Linked DNA regions of Homo sapiens: region 2 is linked to region 1. The links come from fine-mapping of genetic effects on gene expression. A gene starts in region 1. The other region holds a variant in brackets. All regions are shown on one strand. Distances are between the middles of the regions. Region 1 holds the start of SPATA9 (spermatogenesis associated 9). Region 2 overlaps RFESD (Rieske Fe-S domain containing).

What was found. PIP is the estimated chance that this variant, and not a neighbour inherited with it, causes the effect. A credible set is the group of variants that fine-mapping cannot tell apart.
Region 2: its variant is the best candidate, but not a certain one, in a credible set for the expression of SPATA9 in subcutaneous fat (GTEx, PIP 0.52).

The regions. Positions count from the first base shown.
Region 1 is chr5:95,680,032-95,685,422 of GRCh38, reverse strand. SPATA9 (spermatogenesis associated 9) reads left to right here and starts at 2,432. Exons shown (of 5, transcript NM_031952.4): 1 at 2,432-2,629; 2 at 2,807-2,895. The coding sequence starts at 2,569. It overlaps LOC105379090 (a long non-coding RNA gene), which reads right to left. Exons shown (of 2, transcript XR_948588.3): 2 at 650-828.
Region 2 is chr5:95,648,635-95,654,025 of GRCh38, reverse strand. RFESD (Rieske Fe-S domain containing) reads right to left here. Exons shown (of 6, transcript NM_001131066.2): 2 at 1,695-1,889; 3 at 812-909. The coding sequence starts at 1,754. It also overlaps a transcript of SPATA9 not described here. Among named protein-coding and RNA genes, the nearest start is that of RFESD, 4.6 kb to the right of the region's middle. The variant T/C (reference allele first, on the strand shown) is at 2,772.

The sequences.
Region 1 (5,391 bases):
GATAGGTTTTGAGGATTGGTAGGTAATACATGAAGTGAGGAGTATGACTTCATCTCTGTTGAATTTGAAGTAGGTTTGAGGGAAGGATCCAATTAGGAAGGTTGTTAGGGTTCTAGCCAGTTTGGTGCAAATCAAAATGCTGAAGCCCAGGTGAATCGGGCAAGCCCAGCATTGAGTTTTACCCAAGTTTTGCAAAATTTCCAAAACCAAAAGGTCAGTGCATATTTAATGAAACCTGCCACTTATTGGGTATTTAATGTTCATCAAGTATTGTTTCCTTTTTAAAAGGTAAGAGGCTTATAGAACTTATGTAATTTGCCCACGGCAAAGCCTGGTAAGTGATAGAATTGAAACTCAAACCCAGGTCTGACTGACCCCCAGATTTCTATATTTCTATCACTAAGTTTATACTGTCTATATGTGATTATGTAAAATGTTCATTTTCTTCAAAGCTGTGTGCAAAACAAAAGTTCTGTTCTTCTGTATTAAAGCCTTTTAAGTACAGATAAATCTGTACAGCTGTCATAAAAATTATTTGGAGATATTTTTAATTGTTTCCTAGTTTATTTTATAATTATGGGGTACTCTATTATGAACTCTAAAGAATAACATAATGAAGAATTAACAAGAAAAAAACAGACATTGTGGGTTCTTTTGTCTAAGTTTATTATCTGAAATAACATAAGATGCATAAGATTATTGGCATAAGAAGATAATTAAACACAAACCAAAATATTATAAGGTCATAATGTAAGTGCTGCAGGGTGAGATTTTCTTACTCCATCACCGTCTGTCATTTTTCACCACTCTACTTCTGGGGAGAGGGCTCTTAAGTAAGAAAAGACAAAAAGGACGTTGTTAGCAAACACAAAGAGTTGCTTATGCTTTAAGTGCAGTAAACATTAGCCTGAGAAATGCTTTTCCTCTAGATTTGTTAATTTTATAGGATGCCTAGGAGGGAGAGGACTGATGAAAAGAGAAGAAAATTGGGTAAAACCAGTTGGGCAATGACATTGGAATCAGTGGATAAAAAGAACTAGGGGATGGTGGAAGGGAGGAGAATGGAGAACAGGGAGGAAGACCAGAAAGAGAAGGATCTGCCAGGTGTTCATCTGCAGTGGACGCTGATGACCAACTATCTTGCTAGGACAGATAAAGTATTTCATTATCTCATAGACTCCCAGCGTGTGTATTCATCATTGTCTAGTATGATTTTCTTTGTACCGATGGATTGCACTTTCCAAATGTTAAGGGCATAGTTATCTTAACCATGAGAGTCATGAGAGGCAAGCAGGTTCTATTTTGGTTAGGAGAGGTGAATGTGGTATGGCGGAGGGTGTTCTAAGGCAGATTGTGGACTAAGAACACCATGAGAGCTGGGGATTTTCAGGCTTCCCATGCTAGAGGAATCCTGGGATGAAGATTTCTCTTTCCCAAACTGTTCCCATGAAGACACTTTCAGCAGCCGTGGCTTTATGCTTGCTGAAGAAAGTGGTCTAGCTGCAATTAAATATGAGGGCTTCAAATTAGAATGGGATTCAGGTTAACCAACTATTTCATTCACACTAAAATATAACTAGGCTGTCGGCCGGGCGTGGTGGCTCACATCTGTAATCCCAGCACTTTGGGAGGCCGAGGCAGGCGGATCATGAGGTCAGGAGATGGAGACCATCCTAGCTAACACGGTGAAACCCCGTCTCTACTAAAAATGCAAAAAGTTAGCCAGGCGTGGTGGTGGGTGTCTGTAGTCCCAGCTACTCGGGAGGCTGAGACAGGAGAATGGTGTGAACCCGGGAGGCTGAGGTTGCAGTGAGCCAAGATCGCGCCACTGCACTCCAGCCTGGGCAACAGGGCAAGACTCCATCTCAAAAAACAAACAAACAAACAAACTATATATATATAAAACTAGGCAGTCAATCAAGTCTGCATGGTATCAAGTTCTTCCCATATTTGATCGGGGGAACTAATGGTCATCTGACATGTGAGGGTACTAGGAGGGTAAAAGATGAAGAAAAGAGATTGAGATTATAAAGCAGAGAAACCAAAGACTTTACAGTTTTGCCCGAGTTTGACCTAGTGATCCTCATTGGTGAAGCAAAAACAATCTATTCAGAAGTCTTTCTGAATTCACTGCTGGTGTTTCTTTTCTATTTGGCATCATATATAAAGCATTTCTTTTAAAGCACATGCCATTTTTTTTCAAAGGGACCTTTTGTTCTCAGATGATCCATTATTTGTGGTATCACTGCAGAATTTGGGACAAATTTCAACTTATATCATAGAACTCCTTAGTGTACTTTATTATTCAATCCCCTCACTCCTTCCCTTATGCCTCCAAACACACTCCTCTTCCTCTCACTGCCAGAGTGATGTCAGAAGATTCTGTAGCAGGTTCTCGGAAGCCTATTGTACAGTAACAAAGAATTCCAGCAGTGAGCTGTGAGTTCTGTCCTTGCTGGCTTTCCCAAGTGGAAGGCTACCCTCATCTTTCACTAATGGCAGACTAGGACAAGCATTACCCAGGCCTGCAAGCTTGTTAAGGACTAGGAACCCAAGCAAGAACTCACCATGCCAATCAAACCTGTTGGGTGGATATGTGGGCAGGTGTTGAAGAACTTTTCTGGAAGAAGTATACACAATCTTGTTGTAAAGGGCGTATGGGTGTGGGAACAATTGGGAATAAGATCCCCTAGAGTTCCTTTACTTTCCGAGTCATCTAGGAATTTGATCAAGTGTTTCATGTTCTTTTGAAACATTTAGGGGATGTTTTCAAAGTTTTCTTTTTCCTAACCTCTTTTTGTCTTAGTCGAGGGGATCCAGAAAGCAATCATGGACCTTGTAGATGAGTTTAAAGATGAATTTCCCACCATCCTAAGATTATCACAGTCTAATCAGGTAATGTGATTTTATAACCTTTAAAAGGAATAGAAAAAATATATTCTATTTTTAGTATCATACCCATTATTTAATGCTTGATTTTGAGATCAGTGATCAAAACTTTAGAAAACACTAATTTTGCCTCAGAAAAACAAATTTCAAATATTACTCATTAAGAGGGGTCTTTGGGAAGCAGAGAGATTGTGGACCAAGAAGTGAGGTAGATTGAGAATTAAGTTTAAAGACATTAACTATGTCATTAGGGTAAACACCTGGCAGTCTCTCAACACTACAATTGCAATGTAAAATCAGAAAAATACCTAGATACACTTTAGCAAAAATCTATGTCAAATCAGTGCAAAACCTTGAGATAAATTGTAACAATGGAAAGATAAATACAACATGGATGTGTGTTTAATAAGGAAAGAAAACAGTAGTATCAATTTAAATAAGGTATACATGTATATTTTTTAAACCTCTGTTCCAAAAAGGATTTGAAACAGATAAAATATTGGGAGTGAAAGAGGAGGGAGGTATATATTTTGAAGAGACATAAAGTCAGGAAAAAGTAACAACTTGTTTAGGGAACACATGTAACCTAATTTACTCAAAGGCACACAGCTCTTAATGGAAAAATGTGGTTCGGTCATTTTGATCATAGTTGGAATAGAATATGCTGTGAAGGTACATGGTACAGGAACAATCCACTTATCCAGAAGTCAGACTCTTGACAATGTCAAACATGAGGTATATAACCAAAACCTGGCAGTTAACAAAAAGCACTCTGATTAACACAGTAATCACAAAGTATACATATTTCATTCCAAAGGAGGGATATTAGAGCTAACTTTAACCACGCCTGCAGACAACCAGCCATCAGACATTTAGTAAACACCTCACTATTGCTTGGGACTGGAGAGAGGAAATACAGAGATAAACACGACGTGATCCTTTCCGCTAATGAGCTTAATCTAATGGAGATAGAGTTGTAAAGGAGTAATTGCATTAGAATATGGTCAGTGTTACATCTCTGTATGTAATTTAGAGGAGTGAATGACTCTACTGAGGAAGGTCAAAGAAGGCTTCATGGAGGAAGCATGCTTTTAAGTTGGGTCCCAATGGATGAATAGTAGTTTTCAAGGTAAAGAAAAGGGTGGGATCAGTGGGTAGGGGCAGGGAAGCATATTCCACTGGCAGTGGGGGTTAGGCCAAAAAGTAGGAAACAGCATAGCATGTTTCCAAAATGTCAAATAAATATAAATTACAGGCATGTAGGATAGAAGGGTTGAGATAGGAAATAGTAGAAAACGGGGTGGAGGTCTTTGTATGCCATGTGAAAAAGACTGGACTTTCCCTTATAGGTAACACAGATATCAGCCACAGAAAGGTTTTGGGCTTGGAAATGACATTCAGTTTGCACAACAAAAATACTTTTTTAGTGGTAATGAGATCCGAATGGAGGCAGAGCTTCTAGGAAGATTTTGTTGCAAATGACAGCTAAGAACAAGGACATTAACATTGGAAATAGAATGGGTTGAGCACAAGAGATATTTAGCATACTTTGAAACTGACAGTGTGGGATGAGAGATAATGTGTAAAGGTTGAGGAAGATTCTGGATTTCGTGGGTGGCTAGAAGAATAGTGATCCCGTTAACTAGGACCAAAGACAAGATGAGGAAGAGCAGCTTTGGAGATAATGAGTTTGATTGGATCACAGTTTAAGGGGTCATGCCACATCCTGTCCAAGCCTTGGAGTTGAGTTATAAATTGCATATGTAGGTTGGAAGCTCAAGAGAAGCCCGGCTGAAGATGTATATTTGGGAATCATCAGTGTATAGTGTGTTGTTATAGTGTATAGTTAAACCATGTCTTTAACTAACTGTAGTGTACATTTAAACCAAAATGGCAATCATCACTGCTCAAGAAGATTGTGTAGTAATATTAGGGCATAGGATAGAACCCCCGACAATGCCATTGTTTAAAGGGTTAGCAGGGCATCAGAGAAAAGAAGAGAATGAAGAGAATGAAATTCTATGAAAGCCATTGAAGTGGAGAGAAAAAGGAGAGAGGAATTAGCAGCAGTCAGAATCCTCAAAGATGTCAAGTATGGGATACATTTTTTAAAGTTATTTTGCATGTCAGTAAAAATTTAGCCAACACTAAGTGGAAAAAATTTTAGTTACCCAGAAAATTTACTTACGTGGAACCCCTCATTCACCAATAATGGTTGCTGTGACTTAAACTCTTATTTAGCAAAAATAATGTTCTGTTCTGAATAGAAGGTAATTGTTATATATGCAGTTGATTCAAATTACTGAGCCTATACATTTCTAAAAATACGTTAACTGGGCCAGGCGCGGTGGCTCAGGCCTGTAATCCCAGCACTTTGGGAGGCCGAGGCAGGCGGATCACAAGGTCAGGAGATGGAGACCATCCTGGCTAACACGGTGAAACCCCGTCTCTACTAAAAATACAAAAAAATTAGCCAGGCAATGTGGCGGGCGCCTGTAGTCC
Region 2 (5,391 bases), 31 kb after region 1:
ATTCACTAATTTGGTTCCAGCTTAATGGAGATAACCCTAAGAATGAATAGTTCGGACTTTTCAAGATTAATGGAGGCACTTTCTGTAGCTATATAAAACATTTATAAATACTAGATTATTATTATTTTGAGACAGAGTCTCACTCTGTCACCCAGGCTGGAGTGCAGTAGCACGATCTCAGCTCACTGCAACCTCCGCCTCCCAGGTTCAAGGGATTCTCCTGCCTTGGCCTCCCGAGTAGCTGCGATTACAGGAGCCCACCACCACACCTGGCTAATTTTTGTATTTTTAGTAGAGACAGGTTTCTCTGTGTTGGCCAGGCTGGTCTCAAACTCCTGACCTCAAGTAATCCACCCACCTCAGTCTCCCAAAGTGCTGGGATTACAGGCGTGAGCCACTGCGCCCGGCCATAAATACTGGATTATATTAAGTAGGTAGTCATTACTTTGCGTTAGAGACTCTTAAAGACTGCCAAAATTAGGGAGGATTCCTCAATCTGAGGCTAGAGTTGTATTAGATTCATTTCAAGGTCAAGAAGGAAATTTCAGAACTTGTAAAACATAGAGATTTAAGTTTCACTATCCCTTTATTTCCTATCAAATTCAACACTAAACAACATTCAGTTATCTGCATTGTTTTCAGCCTTCTGCTGAAAGCAGGATTCTTTGATTGTCTGAATAGTCTTCAGCCTCTTGGCTAAGGTGGTCCACTTGGTTTTGCCTGGAGTACACAGTTGGCTCTTACAGGCACAACCAGATAGCTATTACAGCAAGAGAAGGTGGGTATGAATGAAAACCTTTCATTTTCTTACCTCAGATAAAAACTGGTCACTGAGATGACAGCTGAGCTGAAATGCCCAAAATGCAAATGAACTAGACATGCCAACAGCTTGGGGAAGAGAATTCCATACTGAAAGAAGAGCAAATACAAAAGCCTGAAGGAAAGAAAAGTCTTGGTGAATGTGTTCCAGAAGACTGGAACATAATATGCAAGATTGGTAAACAGGCAGGAGCCAGGTTGTGCAGTGCTGTGTATGGATTTTACTCTAAGAGCAAAGGAAAGCCACTGAAGAGTATAAAGCAGGAAAGTGTGAATTGATTTCTTTTTGAAAGAATGCTCCCGGCTCTGTGGAGAATGGATTATAGCAAAACAACAATGGATGCCCAGAAATCAGAAAGCTAGGGGTCCATGAAAAAGGTGGTGGCTTGCCGCAGGGGGTTGATGCTGTAGGGGATAAAAAGTAATAACAACAGTAGCAGTAGTAGCTACAATTATATTGTGTTAACTATGTGCCAGGCACTATTCAAAGGCTACATTTATTTATTAACTCCTTTAATCCTCCATGTTACTAAAAAGGTATTATTTTAATTTTATAGTACAGAGAAGTTGGGTTGATGAACTTGAATGAAGATGCTACAGAAAAATAAATAAAGATGACTCCCAAGTTTTAGGTTTGTGCAGCTAGGTGAACTGTAGTGCCAAAGACTGTGAGGAGAAAGGCCAAGAAATGAATGGTATTTTTGCAGAATGGAAAATCAAGAGCTATATATATTTTACACATATTGAGTTTAAGGTATCTCAGAGACATCCAAGTAGAGATGTCAAGTCAACAACCAGATATATGAGACTAAAGTCGAGAATTTCTAGAGAGAAAAACTGGGGAGTTTCCAGGTCATAGAATTCTATGGACTCACTTGGAGAGGAAGTGTAGATAAGGAAGAAGGTCTAAGACAATTCCTGAAACACTTCAACATTTAGAGGTCAGGTGGAAGAGAGGTTGTAGAGAGGCAAGATCAGTAGAGTGTCCAATCTATTGCTAATCAAATGAAATTCATTCACAGCTTTCTTCTCTGTCTTATATTCTCCTTGAATTGCAAATAGGTGGTAACCTGGAAAAAAAAAGGCAGGCAATGAGGCCACATAAATTCCAATGCTGGTCACGTCTGTGTACTAAACAATAAATAATACATGAAGAAAACTCGAGGTTCTTAGGAAACTGTCCTGAAACTTTGGTTGTTCTATAAAGAGTTGTGCCTACCCTGTACCCTTTTCTCTTTGTAAGTTCACTTACTCCCTATACATCCACCCTCCTAGAAATCAAATACTGATTAGTATCCAAGTAAGAGCTTATATTCAGAATATAACCATTACTACTCTCTTTTCCCTGTATTTCTAAAGTTTGTCTCCTATTCCACTCTTTAATATCCTTTTGGCCAAATATAGAAATTAAAAGGTGGGAAAAAAATCAAGACTAAGAAATATCTCAATATTATTTTTAGGAACAGGCTTAAGGATTATAGGTTTGATCCTGCCCTTGAATCAAAATAATGACTCAGGCCAGTGGCTCACACCTGTAATCCCAGCACTTTGGGAGGCCTGGGTGGGAAAATCAATTGCCAAGAATTCAAGACCAGCCTAGGCAACATACTGAGACCCAGCTCTACATAAAAATGTTTTTAAAAAATTACCCAGGTGGGTTGGTACTTGCCTGTAGGGTTGGCTGCCTGGGAGGCTGAGGGAGGAGGATCACTTGAGCCCAGGAGTTTGAGGCTTCAGTGAGCTATGATCATACCACTGTACTCCAGCCTGGGCAACAGAGTGAGACCCTGTCTCTAAAAATATTTTTTTAAAAAAAGTTTGCTGTGGAATGCTCAAGATATTAAACACACACTTGTCTACAAATATTTAACAAAATTACAAATCAGTTGTCAACTTCAAATAAATATTCTAACTTTAGGAAGATATTTCATCATCCACACCTTCTTCAAATA[T/C]AGTAATACTGTAGCATTTCACAGGAGTTAAGCAACATGATAATGTACCTTTCCTTGATCAAAAGGAATCTGCATTGTAATTCCACTCAAGTCTTAGGTTACCATTTTACATAAAAACACATATATCCCACTTCTTTTTTTTTTTTTTTTTTTTTTTGAGACGGAGTCTCACTCTGTAGCCCAGGCTGGAGTGCAGTGGCTCCATCTGGGCTCACTGCAAGCTCCACCTCCTGGGTTCATGTCATTCTCCTGCCTCAGCTTCCCAAGTAGCTGGGACTACAGGCGCCCGCCACCACACCCGGATAATTTTTTGTATTTTTAGTAGAGATGGGGTTTCACCATGTTAGCCAGAATGGTCTCGATCTCCTGACCTCATGATCCGCCCGCCTCGGCCTCCCAATGTGCTGGGATTACAGGCGTGAGCCACCATGCCCGGCCCTATCCAACTTCTTTAAAGAAGGCATTTGTACCTCGGTGTACCTAGCTTAGAATGGTTACACACTATGGGCCAGTCGCTTCCCCAAAAAAGGGAAATTGTTTTCATGGAAGTGCCAAGTGACTTTAGGACTTCTGCAGATAATTTTCCTGATGGCTTCTCTAAATATTTATTTAATCCCATATAACTGATTGGAAGTTTTAAAATGTTAGCAGAAAAAGAGCATGGTTCATTTAAAAAGTAAGTTTATAAAACAAAAATTATTAAGAGTAAAATCTCTGTTAGTGTGTTAGGAGTGAGCTTTAGAAAAAGAGAATTTATAGGTCACTATTTTGAGATAAATAGTTCTGAGCCATGTGGAAGACAGATATCAGATATCATTGTAAGGCTGGGCTCCAAAATTGAGGTGTAGGTAGAGAGATATGTGTGTTCATGTTTGTGCATGTGTGCATGTGTGTTGATGGGGAGAGACAGGGGCTTTGAATTCAATGTATAAAAGAAGGCATTACACACATCAAACTTAGAAAATTATAGGGATGTCAAATTTGTACTCTGAAGTTTGCATTTTTAATTCTGCTCTAATTTTTTTTTAAAGGGGGGGATAGAAAAGTAATACATATGCTGTTTTTAAAAATTATCTCACAATAAAAAAGCAAAAGTTTATTATTTTAAAGCAAAGGCAAAGAGGACCATGGCCATGATTTTCTGGGTTAGCTATGGCTGATAGGAGGCAAGAATACTATCTCTGAATGGTCATCTGGTTTTATTTGATTTTGGCAGGTACTCAAAGAACACAAATTGATCAGGTGGTAGTATTTGCCTTCAGAGTTGGGCATGCAGCCTTCATCACATTTTGTGACAGAACAGAGGGGTAATAAGAAAAATGGGAACAGACAAAGGAATGAACTGAAATAAGGGGAAATAGGCTAAAGAAAAAGAAAAGAAAGAAATGTGGAATTTGCAATACATATAACTGACAAACTCTTGAGATTCAGAATATGTGAAGAACTCCTATAGGCCAGTAAAAAAAGAACAAATAATCATAGAAAAATGGGCAAGACATGAACAAACATTTCACAAATAAAGAAATCTGAATGGCCAGTATATGTAAAGACACTCAATCTCATTAGTAGGAAAACGCAAAGGAAATGCAAAGCAAGGCCATTAATGTGATACTATTTTCTATCCACCAGGCTGACAAAAAATTATACCAAGTATTAGTGAAAATATGGAACTGCTAGTGATAACATAAATTAGTGCTACCACAATTTGGCATTACCTAGTAAAGTTAAACATAATAATAATCCCACTTTGGGTATATGCCACAGAAATGCACACAGGTACACCAGGAAACATACACAAGAATAGTTATAACAGCAAAAAACAAAAACAACACAAAACCCATCAACAGTAGAATGGAAAATGTGTATGTTCATTCAATGGAATGCTGTACAGCAGTGAAAAATGTATCTCTACATCAAGTTGGCTTAATTTCAAAAAACATAATTGCAAGTGAAAAATTTAAAAAGGAATTCAGAGTATGTTTCCGTTTTTATCACAAAAGTGGCAAAACCAAACAGTATATTATTCATGGATATATGTACTATAGGGTAAATATATCAAGAAAAGCAAGGGGATAATAAACATTTCTTAAATGTCTAAAAGTATTTACTTTTTTCTTATAATTAAAATTATTCTTTTCAAGATTTAAGTTGTATCCTAATGTATATTTATGTAGCAAATGACCCCAAACCCAAGAAAAATGGAACAAAATTGCCCTTTCTATCCTCAGAGAATGTGCCTGTGCATAGGTCATGAATTAACTATTTGAGAATTTTGTACAGCTAATTTCAAAACTTGGCACCAAAGGAGGAAATAAATGAATAGTTGTTTTCCTCCAGGCCAAAAAAAAAAAAAAAAAAAAAAGCACTACTATCAAAAAGTAACGAAATACAAGAGATGTAGTATAATATCAAAAGTTAATTATGTTTTCCCAACTCCCAAATAAATGAGAACCAAATACAGGTCTTTCTCAAATTTGAGTCACTACAAACTTACAGTTTTTGCAAGGTTTGCCTCCAACCCGACAAACTGGTGAACTTTTACGGGACTGATAAAAAAGGAGCAGAGAAGACTGGGGCTAAATGATAAAGGTTTCAGAGAACTATGATTATGGCTGTGCAT